Linked DNA regions of Homo sapiens. The protein of the gene in region 3 purifies or fractionates together with the protein of the main gene of each other region. This does not show direct contact. Each region holds a gene or a part of one and is shown on either strand. Other genes may lie near its edges.

Evidence for each region. The genes of interacting proteins can lie anywhere in the genome.
Region 1: the proteins of TM2D2 (region 3) and TMEM39A purify together in Homo sapiens (affinity purification with mass spectrometry; 2 studies listed by BioGRID and IntAct, with this or other methods). This does not show direct contact.
Region 2: the proteins of TM2D2 (region 3) and UQCC2 purify together in Homo sapiens (affinity purification with mass spectrometry; 2 studies listed by BioGRID and IntAct, with this or other methods). This does not show direct contact.

The regions. Positions count from the first base shown.
Region 1 is NC_000003.12:119,428,413-119,432,615, forward strand, and holds the end of TMEM39A (transmembrane protein 39A), read right to left. Parts: intron 3,803-4,203; coding exon 3,569-3,802; 3' UTR 537-3,568; downstream 1-536. UniProt on the Homo sapiens protein: Regulates autophagy by controlling the spatial distribution and levels of the intracellular phosphatidylinositol 4-phosphate (PtdIns(4)P) pools.
Region 2 is NC_000006.12:33,701,665-33,708,700, reverse strand, and holds part of UQCC2 (ubiquinol-cytochrome c reductase complex assembly factor 2), read left to right. Parts: intron 1-7,036.
Region 3 is NC_000008.11:38,993,480-39,000,557, forward strand, and holds the start of TM2D2 (TM2 domain-containing protein 2 isoform a precursor), read right to left. Parts: upstream 3,031-7,078; 5' UTR 2,961-3,030; coding exon 2,734-2,960; intron 2,316-2,733; exon of another isoform or gene 2,025-2,315; coding exon of another isoform or gene 1,927-2,024; coding exon 1,839-1,926; intron 182-1,838; coding exon 66-181; intron 1-65. Other genes in the region: ADAM9 (disintegrin and metalloproteinase domain-containing protein 9 precursor), read left to right, coding at 3,585-3,681.

The DNA of each region.
Region 1 (4,203 bases), on a different chromosome or scaffold from region 3:
AGCTGTTGAAGCTTTCTGTTGAATTTTTCAGTCTCTTGAATTTCTATCCCATTCTTATTGTTTCTATTTGTCAACTTTCTTTTTAGTGTACTGTTTTCAAATTTCATTAAATTTTTTATCTGTATATATTAATAGTTCACTGAACTTCTTTATGGGTATTATTCTGAATTCTTTGTCAGTTATTTCATAAATCTCCATTTCTTTGGGGTCTATTATTGGAGCTTTATTAGTTTCTTTTGTAGGTGTCATGATTCCCTGATTCTTCATAATCTGTATGTTCTTGTATTGTTGTCAGTGCATTTGAGGAGACAGCCCCCTCTTCTGGCCGTTACAGGTGTTCTTGGGAAGGGATAGACCTTCACTATTTAGTCTATCCTATGATTCCAGAAGGGTCAGCTGATCAGTTAAGTGATGCTGATGCTGCTGATCTAGAGATTACTTTGGGAACTAGAAACCAGTGGATCATAAGTTATTCTTAGCTTATAATCTTTCATTAGCTGTCTTCTGTCTACAAAAGTTCCAAGACATCTGTCTGCTTATTTGAAGTACTTATGAAAAGAGCACTTTATTGGGCTTCACACTCAAGATTGTTAATAGATCTGATATCTATTACGTATCTCATACATATTTCTGTTAATGAACACCCTAGTGTGACAACTGGTTTACTTGTCTGTCTTCTATTAGTTAATGAACTCGAACATCACTATCTCCGGCACCCAGCAGTGTTTGGCATATAATTGCCCAGTACATAGAAATGAGATGCCTGGCTAGCTTAATAGAAATAAAAAAATTAATTAAAAAAAAGAGAGAGAAACGGCACAACAGGTGGCAGTGGTGGTGACTGATAGGGACAGGAAGGAAAGGAGGATTAGGAATATAAACATGGAATCAGAGTAAACAGGATATTGAGGAAAACTTCTGTCATGCTCATTCCTGTGAACTACCCTCCTCTACTCCTTTATTTACCCACCTTAGACCACCCAGACTAGTCAAGTATCTTCTTTCCTTTTCCAGTATCCCAGTTCACCCAACTGAACTTTTGCTATACCATGCTTTCCACAAACAATTTTAACTTGCCAACAAAGAATTACAAAAAAGGTCATTCTTTAATGATTACACATTTTTCTACTATCAGTGAGCAAATATAGTGTCCCTTCTGTTACATGAACTATAATAGGATATCCGGGTAACTAGTAATTTTTCTCTCTTCCATGAACGTGGCCCCTACAAAAACAAAACAACAAAACAAACAAACAAAAAACAGCTGGAATGTGTAGAACACGTTGAACTAAACGGTCTTATGCCCCGTATGCTGCCATATCTGGAGGTGAGGGTAGGAGGAACTTTGCAATTCCATTAGCCAAAATTAATTTTTATTTATTTCTTATATCCACTTACTTATTTAGCCAAGCCAGCATCTGGTTCTGTGCTATTCCCTTAGGATAGGACCAAGACAGATCAAGCCAGAAGGGGCATCATATTAGTTCATAAGACTGGTCTGTTATCTCTAATCAGGGTTTTCTGGGTTACTTTCCCAAGCTGGAGCCAAGTTGGGGCAATTTTGATGAGATATCTCTGTGCCCATGCCACCCATTTTGCTCTCAACTGCTGAGTAATCTCATGAAAATGTTGCTGCCAAGAGAAGCATATTTTCAAGATCCTACAGAAAGAATAGAAAGATGGCAGATTCCCTACCCTTCCCACCCCTACCTCAAGAACCACTATATTTAGGCTGAACTACTTTAAAAAGCAACTAACCTAATATATTTTCTTGCTATTCTTCCAATATACCAACTTGTCCCCACCTCAGGGCACTGCCCTTTCTGCTACTGTAACATGGAATTCTCCCCAAAGCTATTTATATGATTCAGTCTTGCTTTTTCTTTGCTTAAAAATCATCTCCTCAAAGATGCCTTCTAGCAGTGCTATTCTTACCACTATTTCCTTGTCCTGATTTCCCTTTGCTACACTTATCACTACTACCAGGGAATGTTATATTACACATAAATTTATTTGCTGTATTTTCTGCACCACCTAACTCCCCCACCCCCACGCATATTGTAAGCTCTGTGCAAGTAGGACCTTTGCATTTCTCATTCACTGCTATATCCCCAGGGCCTAATATAGTGCCTACTGGTTAATATATATTTGTTGAATGGTTGAACAGACTCAGACTGAATGCCAAATAATGTTAACTTAAAAAAAAAGTATACACATCAAAATATTTAAAGAAACAATTATTGATTTAAACATAAAACTGATATTGGGTACCTTGGTTTTACAAACACTCCTCACAATACTTCCCCTTGGTGAAGCCTTTCAGGAACTCTTCTGCAAGAATTATTTTCAGAGCCAGCTTGTCAACGACATGATTGGTCTTTTTACTTCATAAGTCTTATTTTGTTTCACCAAAAGCTTCACAGTGTAACAAACCAAACTCAGCACAGAAAACATATGACAATATATTTTAGATTCTCTAAGACAAGGTCTCATAAGTTTAGATGACAAGTGACAACATCAATGGACTAAGTATATCACCTCCCATAACTTAAAAGGCTAATACTCATAAACATGAAAGTTCTGGAGTATGAAATTTAAAACACAAATTTTGGATATAAATTATCTGAGTACAAAGCTGTAGGTAATTCTTATCTTTCACTTCCCCTCATAACTCCAAACATAACGCCATTGTAGGTGGGTTGCTGCTAGACTACATCCAAGATTGTTCAGCTGAGGACTTGCCCACTCTCCCAGTTACTTGGAATTTTCAACCTTCCCATACTCTAGCCCACATGGCATTTGCACTCAGCTTCTCCTACTGATCCAGCCACACATCATCTTCTTCATGAATGTGGGCAGTCTAAAGACTTCCTGTCTGGCAAAGTATTATTTCAAACAACTAAGAGGAAAATCTTTGGAAGCAGAAGTGGAAACACAGGAAAAGTGGCAGCAAAACCCTCAGCCTCAGGATAGTAGCTTATTCAAAAGTATATTTAAATGTCACAGGGTAAAATAGACCAGCTGAGTCCGTATCTTAGAAAGGAAGCCTACTGCTTTCTCCTGGTAGGCAACAAAGAGAACCCCACCTAGGACTTTAACCCACTCTTTTCCCAATGTATTCCAATACTATTAGCCAGCTGAACTAAAAGAGAATGGGTGCTGGTAGGCAACTCCATTGATCTCCCTTTCTTTAGCAATAAGTACTGGCCAGCTGAGGGCTAAAGATAATGAGGATTGAAAGAAAAGCAGACATACCAAAGGTACTGTGTCAAGTAATACATGAGATGTGTTCATAAACGAATGAGTTATTCCAGAGCCATACAAACAAATCAATCTCTTTACTGGACAGGCATACCTCTCATATGTATATTATTCGAATATACTAACACATGAAAGATCACATCACCTTGTTTACGGATACATTTAATATCCCTTACTCTTCCCGACTTTCAAAACATAATAGTATACAAAATATAAAATATCTTAAATATTTATAAAAATCACAAGAAAAAAATAGAACGTATGAAAATATTTTTATCTGAGTTCTCCCTCATTGTTGAGAGGCAGCTTAGTTTGCCTTGAGTTCATAACTGTTGAGTGGGTAGGAGTATGCCCTGCCTAATACTATTCTGTCCCGGAGAAGTTTAAATAAAACATAGTAGTTGCAGAAGAGGATGAGAGCCATGGAAAGTGTGTGGTTCCACTTCTCCGACCGCAGCAAGGAATAGAGCTGATAGAAGACGACACTGCCCTCAATAAGGATGAGCAGATTTAACAGCCTTAATGGTCGATGAAATAAGAACTGTAAGGAAGTTAAAAAAGTAAAACATTATTTCATAGAAAAGTAATGGCTACAGTTATTCTTGCATTGATTTTTCTAAAATAATTTAACATTTACAGGTTCCCATATATAATAATAAATAGATCTGTTTATTTAATATCAATCAGGCTATTTCTTGCTATAAAGATTGAAACCTTTTCCTTTTTGCTCAAGAAATAATGAAATAATTTTTATTTCAATGCCCCTGAGACACGAAAAGAGATTATGCCCAAAAGAAAACTACTTATAAACATTTTTCTTAGATTATATTTTAGGTATATATTTTATTTAGGATAAACACAAAAGTATATTCATCTAAGACAGAGGTGGATAAAGGACCAAACAGGAAATATTTTAGGCTTTGTAAGTCAAGAGGCAAAAAT
Region 2 (7,036 bases), on a different chromosome or scaffold from region 3:
GCAGCAGGAGGTGGGGCTTAGATCCAGTTGACTGACTAGTATGGAGCTCCTCCTTGGTTAAGCCGGTTGCCAGAAGACAGAACTGGAGGGGAAAGTAGCTCTGCTCATGCCGTCTTTCCATTTCCGTAGAGGAGAGAGGCAGTCAGTCCTCCTCTCAGCCTCTTGGCTTCCTTCGTCCTAATGATCACCCTGAAAGGTGCACAGTGCACCTTTGCCGGCGTGATCTCATTTAATCCTTAGTACAGCTGAGTGGTAGCCATTACTGTTCCCATTTTACAGATGAGGAAACATCAGAAAAACAAGACAACGCACTGGGGGTTCCGTAGCCATAAGAGACAAGCCAAGTGAGAAACAGACCCAGCCCCTCTGGCCCTAGTGTGCATCGTCTCCTGGGTGCCTGGCCTTTCCTCAGCTGCTGTTCCAAGTTATTGTTAGAACAACCTCTTATTCCATGAACGTCAAACCACTTCCTTCCCCTGGTTGCCCGTTCAAACCTTTTTGGGCCATAGATAGTTTGGGCAGCAAATGGAACTCCCTGTGTTTACCCACCTATTCTTTGCCCCAGCCACTACCAGTCCAGATGGGAAGAAAGATGGTCCTGGGTGGGACACCAGGCGGAGAAAAGCTGGGTTAACTAAAGGGCAAATCAATAATTCATACACAAAACCAGAGTACAAAAACCACTGCCTCCATTTATTCCACCTCAAATTGCCCTCTGGGGAGTCTTGTGGTCCACCCTAAACCCACCAAGTGGGGAGGTGGTGGTGGGAGCGGGAACACATGTAACTCCTCTTACACCCCATATCCTATTGTGTAGTTTTAAAAAGTCAGTGTTTATGGGCTTTGCCAATTTTGAATACAGTTTGTCTAAGAACACGTGTTTCCTACAGCGCTGAGAGCTTAATAAAAGAATTGCAACGTGGGGGAAGGTGGCACAACAAATGTAATTGTTGACCTAACAACAGAGAAAGGAGCAGATCTTTCTAATGAGTTCATTAGGTGCTTCCTAAAAGATCCCGGACTGCACACCAGCACCCACTTATGTAGCACAAGGTGCAACTCCGAGGGGCGTCCTAGAAGAGCTGCTGCTCTTCGCCCACCAGGGAGTTCTAACTGTATTGTATGCAAGTTTAAGTATAATAATATTGGCCCAGTTTGAAAGAAGTTAAACTTTTTCTTGGGTTTCTAATAAGGTAAATGGTATTTCCACCTTCTCAGAGGAGAATTCAAAGGTTTTTTTGATTCTGTTTTCTCAGTCATCCATTTGAGGCCTGGTCCTTGGCATTCCTCAGTGTGGCAGGGAGCTAGCTCCCAAGCCACCTGGCATATGCTGGCCACGGTGAAGCCATCTCAACGTTGCTCACCCCCACTTGTGGGCCCCCTGAAGTTATGCTTTTGAAGAGTGTCCTAAGAACAGATTATCCTATTTTTAATTATGTATTGAGCCCATCGAAAACCTGGAGTTGTAAGGAGAATCATCTCTAAGAGGGAATACAAACATCTCCATCTTTTTTTCTCTCCCAATTCTGAATGGCGCCAGTGTGAGCTAGGGTAGTATTCACACCAAGGGGTGGCGTTTATCTCTGCATATGTAAAGCTGCAGTGCTCCACCTGAAGGGATAAATTCTTGGCCACTTCTGGTGGGTCACTACTTTATTCAAAGATGTTTGGGGTCTGCCCATTGCCTCCTGGGCAGGTGGCAGGCAACTTTGTGAGACCTGCAGTGCCTCTGATCCTTGGTCCCAGCCTGTGTTTCCAACCTTGCCTCGCACCACCCTAACATGAGCCCCAGGCTCAGCAAGGGTGTCTTCTCATGGTCTCCCAAACTGGCCATGGTACAAGCAATTCTGATCCTTTGAGACTTAAGTGCGCTGTGGATCACTGCACCCCTACAACCGCAAAAAACCCAAACACAGAGTTTGTCAAGAATTTGGTGGCTTCCCAGGCTCTTGGAGCCCTCCCTGGGTTCCCCTTAAAAGCCCTGTCTGCCTAAAACACTCTTGTCCTGTGCCTCTTCATGCCTCATCCTCCCAGTCATTTCTGGTCCCTGTGTCACTCATGCCCAGGTTGGCACTCCTCACTCTCTGCACTGTCGCTGCAGTGAAACTCAGCCCTTTCCTGCCACACCTCCCCATCAGCACAGCCAGGTGCCCAACTCCCACCTCGGGTCTCGTGCAGCGGCCCGTGCTCCGCAGATCTGGCTCTCACTTACACATTGCCCCGGGCAGGGTTGGTTTCTAATTCATGTGTATCTTGTCTCTGTAGTGTGCCTGCCAGCTTCTCCACAGCTGGCCTGGGTCGTCGTCTTTGTGGCCCCTCACCGTCCCCTAGTGGAGCACTCTTTCTATAGTAGGTGCTCAAGAAATACATTTTCAACTCAATTGAAGGGAATAGGCTCCCATAACAGAATGAACTCATTTCAGAAGTTCATTACCAAGTCTTGAAAACCTTTTTTTATAGATCCTCCTGGACCGAATCCAGCTCTACCTTAATTAGCAAAGCAATTTGCAACACCCTTTCCCAAAAGTGCTTATGCGTCCCTTTGTGTGACTAGAATAGGGGCCGCTGTACCAATTGCTGTCACCACCCAAAATTCAATTTGCAAAATCGAAATCAGTGCCTGCAGCACTGATGTAGATTTGTATGTATAAAAGTTTAATATGGTAAAGAGAAATTTACTGACGACTGAACAGGGGAAATGCAAAAGGAGCAAAAATAGAGCTATAAAGGACACTCGTCAGATGAACATCTATTTTATTCACATTTGGGGAGCAGTGCTGAATTTTTCATAATGTCCCCACTGCTGCCTTTTCAAACCCAGCACTGCTATTAGTCCTAAAACGTCTGTGATCTCATTAGGTGTGAATGCAAAATCAGGTAATTTAAAGCATGTATTAAGAATATTTCTAAAAATGCACCGTCCATTTCATCAGAAAAACTGCATTTCAGAGCTCAGGAATGTTAGTGCTGGAGTCTGTGAATAAAGTGTAAGCTATAGGAACGTGGTGAGGCTTCTGGAATTCGACAGATGTCTCCACTGACATCCTTTTAAGTAGTAAGCATGACTTTTTTAATTGCTGAGCTTGAGTTATCTGTGGCTAGGAACCCAGCATTGACCAAGGCTTCATCACTCCTCAAGCAGTAAGAACTTGGCTAGAAATGGGCATGTCTCAAACTCCTGTCACCTCCACTGAGCTGCTTTTACAGCCTCAGTTAGACACCTTCTGACCTCAGACGGGAAACTGGATGGCAAGTCTGTTTTAGGACTCAGGTGTTTGGTTTTCTTTCTCAGGTTACAGCTGAGTCCAGGAATTCTGGGAACTCTCTAGGAGACTGTCTCTTTCACACAGGAAGTTTCAGAAGTGAGAGTGGTCGGGTGCGGTGGCTCAAGCCTGTAATCCCAGCACTTTGGGAGGCCGAGGTGGGCGGATCACAAGGTCAGGAGATTGAGACCATCCTGGCTAACACGGTGAAACCCCATCTCTACTAAAAATACAAAAAATTAGCCAGGCGTGGTAGCGGGCGCCTATAGTTCCAGCTACTTGGGAGGCTGAGGCAGGAGAATGGCATGAACCCGGGAGGCGGAGCTTGCAGTGAGCCAAGATTGTGCCAGTGCACTCCAGCCTGGGCGACAGAGTGAGACTCCATCTAAAAAAAAAAAAAAAAAGAAGTGAGAGTACCTGAGGGTCACTTTGCTTTTTGCACTTAGACTTTGTACATTTTGCTCTTATAGGAGCAGCACTCTGCAAGGGTGACCCGCCCCCCATGCCCCTCCTGTCTGTCCTGCTGCTCATCAGGGATGGGACTACGTGGCAAGGAAGGACAGCACCTTATACCACACCTGCTTGAGGGTGTGATACAAGGTTGCTGAGCAACCTACTGGTGACTTCTCACTGCTAGAGAAGTTGGAGCAGGAAGGGAACTTGAGTTGAAAGGTATTTGAGGGTGGGGATCTGGTCAGAATGCAGGTTTATCAGGAAGCAGTGTTAGGAGCCCAGGAGAGAGGCAGAGGCTATGGGAGGAAGGCAGATCAGCTTGTGGACTCCTTTCCTAAGAGCTTGGTTGGGAAGGTGGTGGGGATGGTGGCAGGACGGGAAGGTCCAGATAAGCGGCCATCAGGTGAAGACCAGGTACAGCAAACAGCTGCTCTCTCGGCAGACCATGGAGAGCTCAGTGACTGCTGAGAGCCACCAGGGTCAGTCAGGAGTGAAGCCTCAGCAGTTTTTCATCCTTCCTCACTTCCGTTTCCAGCGCCACCCTCGGCAGTGCACACCAGCCATGCTGATCCACTGGTAACATGCTGACCCATTCCCTGGGCACGGGCTCCACCTGGTCCTGTGCCTGGAGCACCCCACTCCCTTGCCGGTACATGCGCCCATCCTCAGCCACTCATTGTCCAGCACTTCCTGCCTGGCCCCATAGGCCCATAGCACCTTGTACATGCCCCTTCATTCCACTCCCACCAGGGTGGTTCTGAACTGTTCTGTCCTTTCCCCTCTTATTTTATGAGACAGGGGCCTGTGTTTACTACAACTCTTTACTACTAATAACTGTGAGAAAAACTAATCGCTCACATTTATCGGCGTTCCAGGCCCGGAATTCAGAGCAGCCCAAGCGTCACCTCATTTATCCTCACACCACCGGGGACGTAGGGGCTATTATTATATTTTCTTTTAAAAGAAAGGTTAAGTTGGCCAGTATGCTTTAAAAATGTTCAGTGCATGAAAGACAAAGGCCGAGGAACGGTCCCGGATTAAAGGAGACTAAAAGATACATGACTGTTAAATGCAGCAGGACATCCTGTTTTTCCATAGATTATTATTGAGACAATTGACAGAATTGGAATATGGACTGTGCATTAGATAATAGTGTTGTATCGGTGTTAAGTGGCCTGAATTTGATCATTGAACTGTGGTTATATAAGAGAATGTTCTTGTTCTTAGGAAATGCACACTGAAATATTATGGGGTGAAGGGGCATTATGCTCCTACTTTCAAGTGGATCAGAAGAAGGATATGTATGTACAGATACAGAGAAAGATAAACTGTGGCAACTTTTTTTTTTTTTAAGTGTATTTCATGGGGAAGAGTGAGTGGTTTGCCTGACATCACATAGCTGATAAGGGATGGTGCCAGGAGTCAACCCAGGCAGTTTGACTCCCCTGCTCCCTACAGCCTTGGAGATACTCATTCACCCAAGCGTCCCCTGCTCATAGATGGGCCAATCATGCTATAGGGTCTCGATGAATGTCTGTTAAATTTATAAGTGAGCACACTTTGGGAGGCCGAGGTGGGCAAATCACAAGGTCAGGAGTTCGAGACCAGCCTGGCCAACATGGTGAAAGCCTGTCTCTGCTAAAAATACACAAAATTAGCTGGGCGTAGTGGTGGGTACCTGTAATCCCAGCTACTTGGGAGGCTGAAGCAGGAGAATCACTTGAACCCAGGAGGGGAGTTTGCAGTGAGCCGAGATCACGCCATTGCACTCCAGCGTTAGCTCTTGGCTGTGCGTGCCCTGCTGAAGAAATGTTCCAGATGTGTTCGCCCAGATGTGTGCAGAATTCCATTCTAATGGGACTTTCCCTGGACAAGCTGACCAGCAGCAGGGAGACCACAGCCTCATATTTTCCATTCATTCTGTCCACTCAGATAATGACTTTATTATTCAGCAAACGCTGGCCACCTCCTCAGGCCATAATCCTTCCTCTTCTGATGTATCTGGGTGTACATTCTCATGATGAGTAGCCTGAACGCAGGAATGGGTCAGGTAGAACTAAATGATGGATTGTCTTTTTTGTTTGCTGTAAAGTAGGGACCTCATTTGACATGCACAGAGAGGCAGCAGTGGAGCTGCCTATTAAACCACTTTACTACTGATTTATTTATGCTCTGCCTTCTCCAAGGAAGGATTTAAGTTAGGAAAAAATCCATCATTTGAATTCTGGGGGAAAAAATATAAAAGAGAAAGTTTTGTTCTGGGGAGCTTTTCAAAATTCTTGGCAGAAAAATATAAAGAACTATACATAAATAATAGGAAGGACAGAGTAAAGGGAAAGTTAGAAGAGGTGCAAGAGAAAAGACCACACCTCCTCTGTATGCTGCCTGTCTCCCTGAGAAGGTCCAGCAGGGGCACTGCTGTCTCTGGCACCAGAGAATTGACTTACATCACCCTTTCTATGGCAAGGCCTCAGTGTTCTGGGCCATCTCCTTTCTAGCAGGACCTAACTGTGGTCCTGGCTTGGTTCTCCTCAGTTTACACATTTTATCTTAAATGTTGCCTTCTTCATGTTTCTTTCCTTCTTGTAGAGTTTCAGCAGCTCCCCACTTATCATAGATTGAGAACTCAGATGATTTTTTTTTTTTTTGCCTTTGCTAAAAGAATCTGTTGGTCTGAGGCCGGGCATGGTGGCTCATGCCTGTAACCCCAACACTCTGGGAGGCTGAGGCAGGTGGATCGCTTGAGGTCAGGAGTTCGAAACCAGCCTGGCCAGCATGGTGAAACCCTGTCTCTACTAAAAAATACAAAAATTAGCTGGGTGTGGTGGCACATGCCTTTAATCCCAGTTACTCAGGAGGCTGAGGCTGGAGAATTGCTTGAACCCAGGAGGCGGAGGTTGCAGTGAGCCAAGATTGCGCCACTGCACTCCAGCCTGGGCAATAGAGTGAGAGACTGTCTCAAAAAAAACAAAAGAATCTACTGGTCTGGCCTGAAGCATCCCACAGGATTCCTGCCTCCTCTTCCTTGCTGACGGCATCTCCTCCCCCAGGAAGGCCTGCCCTTCTCCCTTCTGCTTGCTGACCTTCTGCTTGCTGACCTTCTGCTGTGCTTCCTTCAGAACCTAGCATTGTCTCACTTCCATCATGCACTGACCACTTGAGCATGCGGGGACTCCCCCACTGAGTCCCTGTAGCCCACTCTGCCCAGCACCCCCTTTGTTAGGCACGCCTTTCCAACCTTACATTTCTATTGTGGCATCTCCCACTGCAGCTGGTGTCGTGGCTCACAAGTCACAGATGCTCAACAAATGCTTGTTTGC
Region 3 (7,078 bases):
AAAGACAAGGAAAATGGCTCTACCTCCAACCAAGTACCAACTACTCCAATCAAAGTAACACTTACTTTATACAAGGTTTATTTTCTCGTAGAAAGGTCCTAGGACTGGCACACTCAATTCCATCTAAGGCATGGCACTGGACTGAAGTGTGTTCCACGTCGCTGTAGGCCTGACCGCCGAACTGTGGAATAACAACCAAGACCAAAACCAACTCACCAGAGCAAGTGACACAAACATCTATCTTTATATTCACTAATAACAGAATGAAAGCGGCCTCAGGACTACAATTATTCCAACAAGGTTGAGGTACAGCTGTGCTCAAGGGCAAGGAATTTAGTGACACACTTCTGAGTCCATCTTAAAGGTACACTGTCTTAAATAAACTCCTGCTTTCTTCTTCATGACTGGCTTCTTCAATAATATAGTAAAAAAAACCCCCAAACACACTCAGTGTCATTAAAGGCCATTTAGAAGAGATGAACACAATGCTTTACTTATCTTTACTTATAAGCATATGTATATGCTTATACATATTTATATGTATAAGCTTATACATATTTACAGGAAAAAGAGCATATAACTGAGCATTTGGGAGTGGGTATTTAAAAAGTCACTGCCTATTAGAGGTCTCTTTTATATCTATTAAAAATGAATAGAATTAGGAAAGAACTCAGGATATTATCTGACTCAGGACTTTATTTAGGTCATAAATGTGTATTACCTGATATCTGTGGGACACCTGTTAAGTTTAAATTCCAGCCAAAAATTTCAGAACTGGGCCTCTTACCATTGCTTAACTGAATTCTAGCCAAGAAATCACAGATATTCATTTTTTACTGGTACCTTATATCAGTGCTTATTACTATTTTCATTGGCGAGTTCCTCAAAGGGAAGGGACTGGGAAATAAGAATGCTTACAGGATAAACTCAATTTTTAATTAAAATGGGCAAAAGTGATCTCTATACAATATTAACTCAAACTTTAATCAATAATTATCAACAGAGTAAAATTTCATTGTCTTAAATATTTATCTATACATGATTTCAGTAAGAGTTGCCCTTTTAGTCTTATTACTGTCAGGTTTATTCCTCTGTGTCTGATTTAGTACAAAACATGCCTTCCCATCATTCTCTTAACATCTGACCAAATCTTGACTTGCATTATGTGGCATAATAGGATGGCGAGTCCATGGTGGGGAGGAGATACATGAACTTCATTGGTTATTTTGAGAGATTGATTAGGAACTGTACACTCAGCTTTAGGGATATTACTAATAAACCTTAATAGCGTTTTTCCATTCCAAGAAGCCACTGTTAACCAATGGCTTCCGCTGGAACGCTTTAATGTCCTACAAAGACATATACCGGTAGACTCTATCTGTCTCCTACGGACATGGTGGAACCTGTTTGCCTGGAGAAAAGAAATGTCATTGGCAAGAAAAGCTCTGCCCCAAATGCATGTGTAACAAAGATACTGCCCAATCCATCACCAGTGTTGCAAAGTGCACAGACTTCCTTTTGCTCTTTCAGGAAAGGTTCATGCCTTGAAGGAGAGTCAGGGGTGACATTTTAGTTTCAAAATCTGTCAGTGGCCAAAGGAACCAAAGACAGGTTGGTCTTTGCACCTGGGTGGTTTTAGCACAGAGATTGCTCCTTCATAAGGAAACCAAATATCTTGTTCAGTCACTGACCCTGGCCATACTGGAAATTTCCAGTAACGGTCTTTCTGAGGAAATTCTTCAAAAAACTTTGTACCTCTTATACTTTTATGTAATAGCATTCAGACATTCCTATTTCGTTATCGAAGGGTTTGCTCTTACGACAAAACAAAAACTCACCTTGAGACAACCATAACCAAGTTCCTGGGATGCAGTTGCATTTCCAACATGATCCACTGGGTCTTCACATTCTATAAATTCATCAGGTCTGTAATTCACCAGTAAGATCATGATCATCATCATACGGTCTTTGCAAATCGCTGTTTGCATGCACGTAATCAAAACGGGCAAAAGACATTTCTTCATCAAGTTTTCTGGGGTTCGGTTTCACCCTGCTGACCCCTTTCCAAGCCAATTAAACTGAAGCACAGCAGGTCAAACGGACAGCCACCAAAATGAACCTTTTGTTGGAGAAGGGAGGTGTTTCTGGTCCTGTTTCTATAAGGATTCTACTTCTGCCATGGTTTCATCTCTTCAGTAGGCAAACAACAAGATTCTGGGGGCAAAATTTAAGCCAAAGTATTCTCAGTCCTCTTTGCATTTCCCAAATGCCTTTTCTTGTTTGATCAAAAAGAGATGTTAAAAAATGGCGTGATTCTGCAACGGTAAGAATATTGATTGCTTTTTTAAAAGATGCCTTGTAGGCAGAGACAAGTCATTTACTCCATTTATGCCTTACTCAGTACTGGCACCGAATCGACCGACTAATACTCTCCTTGGGCTAAAGGGCGCAGGGCAAAGAAAGCACAACCTTACGCCCTTCTTCCAGAGGCTATATGATGTTACTCCTACCCAGTTTTCCTCTTTGGGGATCTCAAAGCCTCTGTCACTGACACACAAGAGTTTTCTCTGCACGGGCTGTGAGAAACCTGGTTCATGATATTTGCCTCCGGAACGACCTCAGAGAGGCAGGGTCTGAAAAAATGCAGCGTCCCCCCAACCCTGCCTTCCCTTAACACCCATATATTCCTGGCACACCCTCCACGTCCACCCGCCTCGACCACTGGTAGCTTACAGGTAAGAGCAGAGGATGACCGGAGAGTGGGGGTCGCCATATTCCCAGCTCGCAGCACCCCCGGGGCCCTCCGGCTGGGCGGCGCCAGCGGATGTGAGCTCAGGCTCAGCGGTCGCATTTTGCGAGTGGCTCCGAGACACACAATGCAGCAGAAGTAAATTCCCCAGCAGCAAAGCCGCCTGGCCGCACAGAAGTAAGTAACTAACCGGGCAACCACCTAGCACCATCTTCCCGGGCACAGGAGCGGAGACCCGGCCTCAACCACAACCCCAGGCCAGCAGCACAGACCCAAGAACTGCGTGGTCAGGCCTTTCCGCGTAGCCCCGCCCGCGTAGCCCCGCCAAACAGCCAATGGACGCGCAGCTCGACGCTCCGCGCACCTCCGCCAACCAACTAGAAAAGGTCGAGCAGACGGGCGGGGCTACTCCGCCCTCTGCTTCTGCTTCTCGATTCCTCTTCTGGGTCTCATGCTCCTCCTTCTTTTGCGCCGAATGCGTTCTCCAATCGGATCCGTCGACCCCCCTAGGTGGGCGTGCCCGGCAGCCGACGGGGCGGGGCGGATATGACTGGCGGGCCGACTAGTGCTGGTTGCCACCGCCGGTTTAGAAATCCTATTCTCGCGCCGGGGACTGGATTTTTCCCTACGTCAGCGCAGCTAGGCGATGTCGGGAGCGAGCTCGGACCGAGGGCTCAGTTGCGTCAGTGCCGCGCGCGTGCTCGTCGGGCGCGCGTGCTCGTCGGGCGCGCGCGCTTCCCGGCCAGACTTGGGGCCCCGGCAGGGTTGGAAAATGATGGAAGAGGCGGAGGTGGAGGCGACCGAGTGCTGAGAGGAACCTGCGGAATCGGCCGAGATGGGGTCTGGCGCGCGCTTTCCCTCGGGGACCCTTCGTGTCCGGTGGTTGCTGTTGCTTGGCCTGGTGGGCCCAGTCCTCGGTGCGGCGCGGCCAGGTGGGTGTCCGCGCCCCGGGTCGGTTGGGACGGCTGCTTCCTAGGGACGGGGCGCTCGGAGTGAACCTGTGGTGCCTGGGAGTGGAGGGGCCCGGCCTGGGGATCGGACCCGGGGTCGGGGGGCGCGGCCGCTCCAGGTGTGTGCGGACCGGGGTCGCACCCGAGGCGCGGGGTTTGGCGCCCCAAGCCCTTCTTGGCCCGGGTCCTCTGCCCGGCACCGCTTCCTCCGTGTCCTGTTCGATGGAGCCGTTCCCAGCGTCCCCCCATCCCTCGCCGCCTCGCGCGACCCCGGGTCCCCCAGACGCCCCGAAACCCGCTCTGGGGCGGGCGCTGACCTCGGCGGGCCGGAGCCCTGCAGGCTGGGCGCGCCCGCGGGCGTTCAGTCCTCCAAACGCCTGCAGGGAGGGAGCTGGCTCTCGCTCGTGGAGTTAATGTCGCTTGGAAAGAGACTGAGAGATGAAACTTTTGCTGCAGGTTATAATTTGAAATTTTGACGTTCATGGTATCCTTGGGTCAACACAGCTAAATTTAATGGTGGAATAAAGGTGGGTGGGAGGACGCTCATTTCTCTTGGGTCATTTTTGTAGTAAGAATATTTTGTAAACGATGTGCTACCTTTCTATAGCCAAACCATTCTTAAAAAATCTGTGTTTTTATTGGGTTCGTACTGTGTTAAATCCGGACAGATAATCCCTGCTCTTTTGAACTCACAGGATTATTGTAGGAATTAAATCATTTGTGTGAAATCGTTTTTGAATTGTGAAACTGCCCTTGACTATGTAAGATACTTGTATTGGAGATGCCCAAACATAGTGGAAGCAGATTGTCAGCACGCTGGCGTCTTTCTGGAAACAAGTTGTTTATTTTGGATTTTGTATGATATAATTGTTTGCATGGCTGTATTTTCTCTATCAGCGACAGAGGATGATGGAGAATGGGAGTTTTTACTAAATCATTGATTGAAAGTTATTCAAAGGTGATGATAGAAGATTTCAACGCAGGACTGTTGACCTTCAGGAAACTAATTACTTGTTTTTCTTATCTTTGGCTGCTTTATTTGAAATTAAGTAAATTTGCCCCAGTGTGGAAATGTTGAAACTCTGACAATGTTTTGAATGGGAAGTTGCCAAATTTCTTCTGGTTAAAACTACTTTTCCGGTGGTATTCTAGATGGTTAACACTCACCGATGTTTAAGGTGAAGACGATTATACATCCGGAGTTTTATTAATCTGTGATTTTTTTTTGTGTTTGTAAATGTAAATAAGACTGTATTTTTAAATGTTAATATAAATTGTCAGTCATTACCGACCTGCATTAGGTGAGTGGAATATCCTGATGGTCTTTAACTGTGGTTTTGGCCAGCTCCTCACTTCGGCATGTGTATGCCCCTTCAAAGTTTAGCCACCGTTTATGGAACTCCTATAAACACCACACAGTTGATTGTAGAGGGGCAGAAGGTGACCAAATATGCTAAGCGCATCTGAGAGATGTTGGGGAAGATTTTTAGAGAAAATAATATTTGAACTGGGCTACATCGGTGATTTTTCAAGTAGAATAGTAGATACATTCTAAGCAGAGGAAAGTTTTTGCAAGAGTATGGTGGGGCGGGGGGCGTATGAAAGAACATGACTTTTTAGGAAATGATAAAAATGTCAATATGTCTTCATGCAGACTATAAAAGGGAGGGATGGAAGATCAAACTAAGGTAGGTTGTTACCAGTTGGGAAGAGTCTTCTATGCTGAACTAAGGGGTTTGGACTTCACCCCGTAGGAAGTTCTTTGGGCAGTGGAGGTTTTAAGTAGGGGTGCGACCTAATCTCATTTTCTGTTAAGAAAACGGGCAACACGGTGGAGGATAGAATCTAGGAGGGAGAGACTAGAGGCTGGGACACCGGTTAAGAGGCTTTTGTAATAGTGTGCAGTGAGTCAACTCTTGTTTCTCTCGGGGAACGTTCATACAAAATCAGCTGACCACATTTTTGCAGTATAAGGTGTTTAAAACGTGCACTGAAACATTTTCCAGGATCGAAAGAGGAATTTGAGGTACCAGGCACACGTCAGTTACATTAGGAGTTAATTAGGTTTTATAGGATTTTTACTACCTTTTATAACATTGTCTCAATGAGGAAATGCAGTATAATTTCCAAACAGCTAACTTTCAGTAAACTTTTTTTTTTTTTTTAAACTGACAAAGGTAACTGTGTCATTGTAAAAAATAAGCGGAATCAGGTATGAAACCTCTTCTGATTTTCTAAGGTAGTAATTATGAGGAACAGATTTAGAATTTTTTTTTAAACAAAGACTGGCATTCTAAAGAAAATGACTTTGAAAGCTTACTCATGGTGAGTCACTGTAAAATCATTTGTGTAGTAAGAACTTAGGTCCATACTAATCTCGTTTTCAGATGCCAGCAAAATATTTGAATTTGATATGTTTGTGTTTGTGCCGATAGGAGAATGTAGCCTTTTACATTTAAGAATGATTTGGTTTTCAACCTTTTAAGTAAAAAAGAAAGCATATATAATTAAAATATGTACAAACCTAGTTCCTGGTTTCCAAGACAGTTTTCAAAAAGCACTTGAAGCTTTAACTTACCAAATTTATATTTGCTCTTTGTAAAAAATCTGGGTTTATAATAGAATTTATTATGGAATCCCCCAAAAGATGCAAGCTCTAAGTAACTGGAAGCTTTTTCTTGGGAATATCCGCAAGCTCAAACATATGACATAGCCTCATATTTCTTTTTCCTTTTTGGTATGTAACATATACTGGAGGCTTGGAGTCATGCCATCCTTTTGAGTCAGCGCTATGGAACTGCCTCATAAATGAATGCAGTCCTTTTGTATCTCAGTAGCTAATCCCTCACAGTCTTTTTTTTTTTGAGATGGAGTCTTGCTGTGTCGCCCAGGCTGGAGTGCAGTGGCACGATCTCGGCCCACTGCAACCTTCACCTCCCGAGTTCAAGCAATTCTCCTGCCTCAGCCTTATGCCTGGCTAGTTTTTTGTATTTTTAGTAGAGATGGAGTTTCACGGTATTAGCCAGGATGGTCTCGACCTCCTGACCTCGTGATCCGCCCACCTCAGCCTCCCAAAGCGCTGAGACTACAGGCATGAGCCACCGCGCCCCAGCCTCTCTCACAGTCTTTGAATGGGTCTAATGTGGACCCAACTAAAGTTGGGTAGCACAATGTTGTTTGTATATTGAGAGATTATTGTAGTTTATTTTCCATTTCATGTTGTTATTTTAATCAGATTATTTTCCCTAAGTGATCATATGTGGGACACTGCTTGAGTCACATCTTTTTTTTTTCTTTCTGAGAGACAGGGTCTTGCTCTGTTGCCCAGGCTGGAGTGCAGTGGAACAGTCATAGATCACTGTAACCTCGAATTCCTGGG